2 linked regions of the Homo sapiens genome follow. The protein of the gene in region 2 purifies or fractionates together with the protein of the main gene of each other region. This does not show direct contact. Each region holds a gene or a part of one and is shown on either strand. Other genes may lie near its edges.

Region 1 (3,500 bases), on a different chromosome or scaffold from region 2:
GAAGGCCTTGCCAGCCGCAGCGTGCTGTAGGAGCTGAGCCACAGCCCCCAGGGCATGGCGCTGGGGGGCAGCCAGGGCTCCACCAGCTGCCATGGCCACAATGTCGAAGGCGTCAGGAGCCACCACAGCTGGGTTCAGGAAGCGGTAGTACAGGAGGTTCCCGACCACCTGAGGGCAAAGGAGACTCTCCCAGAAGTGTCCAGGGGCCGCCTTGACTGGTGCGGCCCCACATTCTCAGCTTGCTTGGCTGGAAGGGACACCTGGGCCAACCCCCTCACTTCAAAGAAAACAGGCCCAGAGCAGGCAGACAACTTGCTTAAGGCCACACAGCAAACCTGAGCAAGAGCTGGGACTTGAACCCAGATCTCCTGACAAGAAGCCAGTGTTGCCCACTCTGTTCGCTCACACCCCAGCATGAGCCATCTGCCACCTGAAGCCCTGCGGGTGAGCCAGGCTCCATTTATAGGGGGCAGCATATTTCCCTCCTTGGATTTTTATGGCATAGGATTTTTTGTGTTTTTGTCTCAGTCTGGGGATTGCAGGTACCAGCAAAGCAAAGGAGGGATTGGGAGGTGGGGGTGGGGAGACAACACTTGCCTTATAGACCTCGCTGTCTGTGGCGTCAGGGAATTTCTCTGCCAGAGTTGCCTTCAGGACTTTGGCCACATATCGCATCCCATACCTGGGGACAAAGAAACAGGTGCGCGTGGCTGTGCCTCTGCCCATCTCTCTCTGCCAGAGATAAGAGCTTGAGTGCCTGGCTGTCTCTTCTCCCCCAGGCTCAGCCACTCCAGAGTAGAGCTCAAGCACTGTCCCTCCACTAGCCATAGCCAGCTCCCTGCTGCCTTCCTCCAAACGTCTCTGGGCCTTGTCCCTTCCTCCTGCCTTATGTCAGTAGTCAGGACCAGGGCCCTATCATCTACTAAATCTCTCACACAGCCTCCAACCTGGCTCGAGAACCTCTTCTTTGAGACTCTCTGGGTCCCCTGCAGAGCACCCCAGCTCACCATAGCCATCCCCCATCCCCCAGAGGCACCATTAACCTAAAGCTTGGGTATCTGACACTCACAGCCAAAACCCTGTCCTAGGACAGCCTAGGTGGCTCCGAGGTAGTCAACCTTGTCAGCTGTCACAGAGCATCTGTGAGTGGCCTAGTCTGGGCTAGAGGTAGGGCCCCAAGGAGATCAGTGAGCCGGGAGGAGAAGCTCCAGTTTGGACTCCACCACCAACCAGAGATATTATCTTAGACTATTTCCTTCTCCTTTGTAAGTCTGTCCCCTGGTCTAGAAAATGGGAATGATCATTCTTGCCTTCTCTTCTCACAGGGCTTTTTGAGGATCAAGTGAAATTATGTCTGCGAGAGTAACGTATAATGGTAGAGTACTATTCAAATGTGCTAGACTGTATTATCATTATTATTCCTATTATGGATGTGCCACCTACAAATGTAATTAAATTCATTTAAAAGCAATTTCCACTCCTAGGGTACCAGAGACAGAAGTTTACAGCTCATTGTGTACTTTACTTTCTTAAGCCTAGAACAATCTTTTCTTACTCCTAATTGTAAACTCTTAATCCGGTTCTCCAGGTTTGGGGAGCAGGGTTATAAACTCTGTGGGTTCCCCCTTTCAACATCCTCATCTTGCCCTGGGCATTCCAGCCTGGGCAATGGAGTGAGACCCTGTCTTAAAAATAATAATAATAAAAAATAAAGAAAAACAAACAAAAAAAGAATGAAAGCCTGTCATTTTCGACAACATAGATGAACGTAGAGGTTCGTGTTAAGTGACATACATAAGCCAAACACAGAAGGACAAATACTGCATAATCTCACTCATATGTGGAATCTTAAAAAGGTGATTTCACAGGAGTAGAGAGTAGAATGGTGGTTACCGGAGTCTGGGGAGGGTAGGAGAAGGGGAGAGAGGATGGGGAGAGGTTGGTCAATGGGTACAAAGTTACATCCAGGTAGAAAGAATAAGTTCTGGTGCTCTATTGCACAGAAGGTGACTATAGTTGATAATAATGTGTTGTATATCTCAAAATAGCTAGAAGGATTTTGAATGTTCTCACCAAAAAGAAATAAATGTTTGAGGTAATAGATATGCTAATTACCCTGATTTGATCATTCATTGCACAATGTATACACGTATCAAAACATCACACTATACCCTATGAATATGTACAATTATCATGTGTCAAAAATAAATGTAGAAAACCAAACGTATTGACTAAATTTTAAGAAAAGAGAGAACTATAAAGTACTTTATGGGCTTAAAATATTTATTTTTGATATTGGGAACTGAAGAGTCCCATTTTCTCCTCATTTGCTCTTAGCTAATAAAGTGTCCCTGAGATCATTTTAGGGTCCCTCCTCTGGTTCCACTGACATCCTACCAGGCCACACACAGACTTGCACGCCGTCTCTCAGCTCAGCTCTCTAGCAGGAGCTTCGAGCATTCCCCACATCTCTTCAGGAACCCCTCTGAGTACCCCTGGCTCCATCTCCCTCCCTGCCTTCCTCCCTGCAGGACTATCACCCTGCTCTGCTCCCCATGGTGGCCTGGCCCTCTTGAAATCCCATGCGTAGGCTGGGGTGGGGCTGTTGCACATACGGAATTTGGTCCACAGATGAGGTGATGGCTAAAAGGAACTTATCAGTCATGGCGAGGAGGTTGCGTAGGGCGATGTCCAGTCGTCTCTGGACCTCGGGGTGGCTCAAGGCCTGCTCCGGGGTGACATCATATGGGAGATGGCTATGAGCAGAGAGAGACAAGGTGTAAGCAGGAGCCCCCTCCAATGGCCTCCTTCCCCAAGGCCCTATTCCTTAAACGCTTGTCTAACAACAAGATCTCATACAGATGTGCTAAGGACAGCTCAGCATGCTAAAGGAGAAAGGGCCAGAATGAGAGAAAGGACTGGAGAAATGCAGTCGGGAGGTAAAGAAGAGTTGGAGTATCTACAGGGAAGCTGGAAGAATGTAGGAAGGAACAGAGAACGTGGAATCTAGGGACCCTTCTAAGGGGAACAGATGACAAGCAGGCGGCTGCGCTGCAAATAGTCTTTGGGAGTTTGGAATAATGGAGAGGCTGGGCCAGAGCCTTATAGTTCCCTCACCTAAAGCCTCCTGTGCCATCCAGAGCAGCCACCAGGATTGCCTGCTCGCCTCTGTGGCTAGGTTTCCCTAGCACCTAGGGACCTGAGTAATGACCCCAGGCTATAAGGGCAACCTATCTCTCCCACTATCTCATTTGCCTATTCATCTGTAAATAGAAATATTCTTCTATACCCCTATCAATAGGAGTCCATATCCTAACTCCCAGCAAATTTTTTTTTTTTTTTTTGCGGGGGGACAGAGTCTCACTCTGTTGCCTAGAGCTGGAGTGCAGTGGTGCAATCTCGGCTCACCGCAACCTCCCAGGTTCAAGTGATTCTCTTGCCTCAGCCTCCCGAGTAGCTGGGACTGCAGGAGTGCGCCACAACACCCGGCGAATTTTTGT
Region 2 (4,020 bases):
TAGAGTGATCCTATCTCTACCAAAAAAAAAAAGAGAAATTAGCTGAGCATGGTGATGTATGCCTGTAGTCCTAGCTACTTAGGAGGCTGAGGTGGGAGGATCACCTGAGCCGGGGAGTTTGAGGTCACAATGAGCTATGAGTGGGACACTGTACTCTGGCCTGGAGTGTGACAGTATGACACGCTATTTCTTAAAAAAATAAACAAAAATAAATAGTACCCATCTCATAGGACTGCTGTGAAGAGAGGTGAGTTACTCATGGAAGATGCGCAGAACAGAGCTTGGCACATAAAAGAGTTTGCTATTACTGTCACCTAGGGCAGCAGTCCCCAACCTTTTTGGCACCAGGGACTGGTTTCGTGGAAGACAATTTTTCCACGGATGGCAGGGAGTTGGGGAATGGTTTCAGGATGAAACTTCCACCTCAGATCATCAGGCATTAGTTAGATTCTCATAAGGAGTGTACAATTTCCATCCCTCGCATGCGCAGTTCACAATGGGATTCGTGCTCCTATGAGAATCTAATGCCACCGCTGATCTGACAGGAGGCAGAGCTCAGGCAGTAATGCTGGCTCACCCACTGCTCACCTGCCGCTGTGCGGCCTGCGGGTTGGGGACCCTTGACGCAGGGCACACATGAGGGGGCAGGGGCTGGCGCTGGGCCTCACCGGAGGATTTCTGTGCCGGAACAAGTCTTCCTCGGTGAGATAGGCATCCACAGGTGATGGTGTGCGCTCCGGGGTCAAGACCCCCATCAGCAGCTCCTGCAGCACTTCGCGAACGACGGTGACTGCCTCATGGGCAGTCAGCTTGCTCTGCAAAAGGGAAGGTGGCAGAGGATGGCAGCCCAGGCTATCAAAACCAATGCATCCTTCAGGAAGTTGGAGCCCCCAGGACTTTGTGCCTTCCTAGGGTCTGAGTTCCTGCCATTGTCTCTCTCTCTCTCTCTCTCTCACACACACACACACACACACACACACGCCTGTTCTAAGACCTGAAAACCTCTGAGTCTCTCCAGACATCCTTGTTCCCTAAAAATGGATGAAAAGGATCCAGAGGAGGGCCAGTTCCAGTGACAGCTGCTGCTGCCTGGGGCCTGGTGGTCACACAGTTAGCATGTCACCAGATTAGGAAGAAGGGGCAGGGCACATAGTGGGGGTGCTTCTGAGGATGGTGGTGAACCTTCATCAGGCTTCAGTGAGTGTCACAGAAACACGGGAGGGGCGCCTTGTGTGAGACATGGGTTGTACAGTCAATGAGTAAAGCAAGCATGACATTGTCAAAATTACCTTTGATCACCACTGGCTGAGCCCCACATGAAGGAGCCGGCCTTGTGATTGGGGGCCACAATGAATAAAAAAGCACAGCTTTCCACCAAATCCCAGGATGCACGGCTCAAATGGCCACACTGTGAAACTGACTGCGGACGACAGATTCCAAGCTCCCACCTCACACTCACTCGAGTTGTCAGCTGATTGAGTGGGACGGTGGGCAGACTCATGCTGCTATGTATTAATTAATTATTCTCCCTGGTTTTGAAGTCTTGTCGCTTAAATGCAACTCCACTGTGTAGTACCAGACAGCGATGAACAAAACACAGACCAGTACATAGGGCCACACATTGTACTTTACAGTCTGCCTCTTAAGGCTCAGTCTAATTTCTTTCTAACTCAGTGGGGCCATGCATGGCATTGCTGCAAGCTGCTCCATGCCTGCCTAGCCAGCGCACCCATCTTTTAAATCACAAGCCCTGGGAAGTGTTTGTGGAGCAAGAGTAGTTACCTGTTTGCTAAAAATCCAATTCTCCTCTTAGGCTGGGAGAAATATGATCCCTTCAGTCACTGCCAGGAAGAACACCAGGATACCCTACCTGATGTCCACAGGGGCCATGGTCCTGGGTCCCTTACCTCCAGTACTTTCCTCTCATCCTCAAAAACGTCCTGGGTCAGGGAGACCGCGTGGAGATTGACCTGCAGTATAGCACCTCCTAATAGAGTAGGATGGGTTCGAAACTCCCAAAATTCCCTGAAGACCCCAGCAGTCAAAGACTTGAAGAAGAAGGTAAATGTTTTAATTTCTCCAGGCAGAATCACACCTGAGAGGGACAGAGACCCGAGGTTTTCAACATGCAGGAGCTGGCTGAGCCCCAGGCCTACATGCTCCTACATGCAGTTAACTGAGTCCCAGGCCAGGTGGCTGGCCAACCATCCCAGTTTGCCCAGGGCTGAGAGGTTTCCTGGAATGTGGGAATTTGAGTGCTAAAGTCCCAGGCAAACAGAGACAGCTGGCCATCCTAGCCCCAGGCCTGTGCACCTAGATAACTGAGCCCCTAGAACGCTTCTGCTCCCTGGTGGCTCACCTCCCCAGGTTCTCAAGTTCCATCAGTCTCTCAACAGACATGAGTAGTCAGGCCACACATTTCACAGAAGGAATGAGAGGGACAAGGCAGGGAAGCAGGGCTCAAACTTACAGGAGCTGGGCCATAACTAAACTTTGATGTCTCACGGAGGACAAAACCAGCCCCAGACAGGAGCTAGCACATAGGGTGGCTTCTCCCGAGTACCTTCCCGGTTGTCAAAGTAAAATCGCTGCATCCTGTTTTTCTTAAGGTCTTGGAAAGTGTCCGGCTGGTGCTGCCGTCGCCAGTCATACCAAATGGCCACGGTGCCATTATTGACCACAGTCAGTTCTGAGGAGGTTTTCTCGCCTTCTAGGGTTTCAAAGGTCAAGTGAGCAGCAATCCCAACCTGCCTCTGGAAGGAGGAGGGACAAGAAATGTCTTTGCTGCAAACCCTGGCCTAGAGTGAACAACTCATCTGGTCTGCCCAGGACTTTTCTGGCTTTAGCACTGCAAGTCTCGTGTCCCAGGCCTCCAGGGCTTGGCCACTGTCACACAGAGTGGTATCCTACTCCAGCGTGGTTGTCTCTGAGGTTACCCTCAATAGCAAGAAGAGAAGATAAAACAAATATATATATATATATTTTTTTTTTTTTTTTGAGACAGAGTTTCGCTCTTGTCACCTAGGTTGGAGTGCAATGGCGTGATCTCAGCTCACTGCAACCCCCGCCTCCCGGGTTCAAGCGATTCTCCTGCCTCAGCTTTCCAAGTAGCAGGGATTACAGGTGCCCACCACCACGCCCTGCTATTTTGTATTTTTAGTAGAGATGGGGTTTCACCATGCTGGCCAGGGCTGGTCTTGAACTCCTGATGTCAGGTGATCCACCCACGTCAGCCTCCCAAAGTGCTGGGATTACAGGCGTGAGCCTCTGCGCCTGGCCAGATAAAATATATTTTATATCCAATGAACACTTCTATTCCTTAGCATCTGAAGAATATTTTGGAACCTTCTTAGAGCCATACCTACTTGAGTTTGCTTGTTTACATGCTTGGGGGCTGGGTATAAGCCCCAAGTGGCTTATGACACTCGCAGCCTTGTGATTTTATTCTTGCTCAAGTCAGTGTTGCTGTCACCATTTTCAGACGTGCTGAATGCACGACCAGATAAAAACCCAAACAGGAGACTGTGCAGGCTGCTGGTAACTGCCAGTCACCTCAGGGCTGCACCCCTGAGGGAGGCTCTCCCAGCAGGTGTGGTGGAGGCTGTTTTACCTTGTCCTGTGGATTACTGCCTCTGATCCAGCAAGCTGGCTTCCCACAGAACAGCAGAGAAGGGCCGAGAATAGGCATGGAGACATCAGAGGAACTGGCCAATGTGCCTCTGTAAGAAAAGCCAATGACTTATTTTCTCTTAGGCTGCCACAGTCATGCCATGTGGAACCCCACAGAAACGGTCACCAGGAAGCCTAGAAACACAACCAGCTCTACCCTGCAATGGAGTATGATCAACTCCACTCCCACGCAGCTTCCTCCTGACCCATTGCTGTAGATGGGAGATTCTTAGAAACACACAGACTCTTTAAGCCCTCTTGCCAGAGCCACTCACAGTACACAGAAATACACAGACTCTCCATGCCAGAGGCATTCAAGATGCATAGCAGTGGGAGGGTCTAGAGAGCCCT

Evidence for each region.
Region 1: the proteins of MYCBPAP (region 2) and IQGAP3 purify together in Homo sapiens (affinity purification with mass spectrometry; one large-scale study listed by BioGRID and IntAct). This does not show direct contact.

What each region holds. Positions count from the first base shown.
Region 1 is NC_000001.11:156,534,566-156,538,065, forward strand, and holds part of IQGAP3 (ras GTPase-activating-like protein IQGAP3), read right to left. Parts: intron 2,757-3,500; coding exon 2,616-2,756; intron 683-2,615; coding exon 598-682; intron 169-597; coding exon 1-168.
Region 2 is NC_000017.11:50,521,672-50,525,691, reverse strand, and holds part of MYCBPAP (MYCBP-associated protein), read right to left. Parts: intron 3,720-4,020; coding exon 3,611-3,719; intron 2,938-3,610; coding exon of another isoform or gene 2,890-2,937; exon of another isoform or gene 2,760-2,889; intron 2,754-2,759; coding exon 2,564-2,753; intron 2,096-2,563; coding exon 1,908-2,095; intron 816-1,907; coding exon 669-815; intron 1-668. UniProt on the Homo sapiens protein: May play a role in spermatogenesis. May be involved in synaptic processes.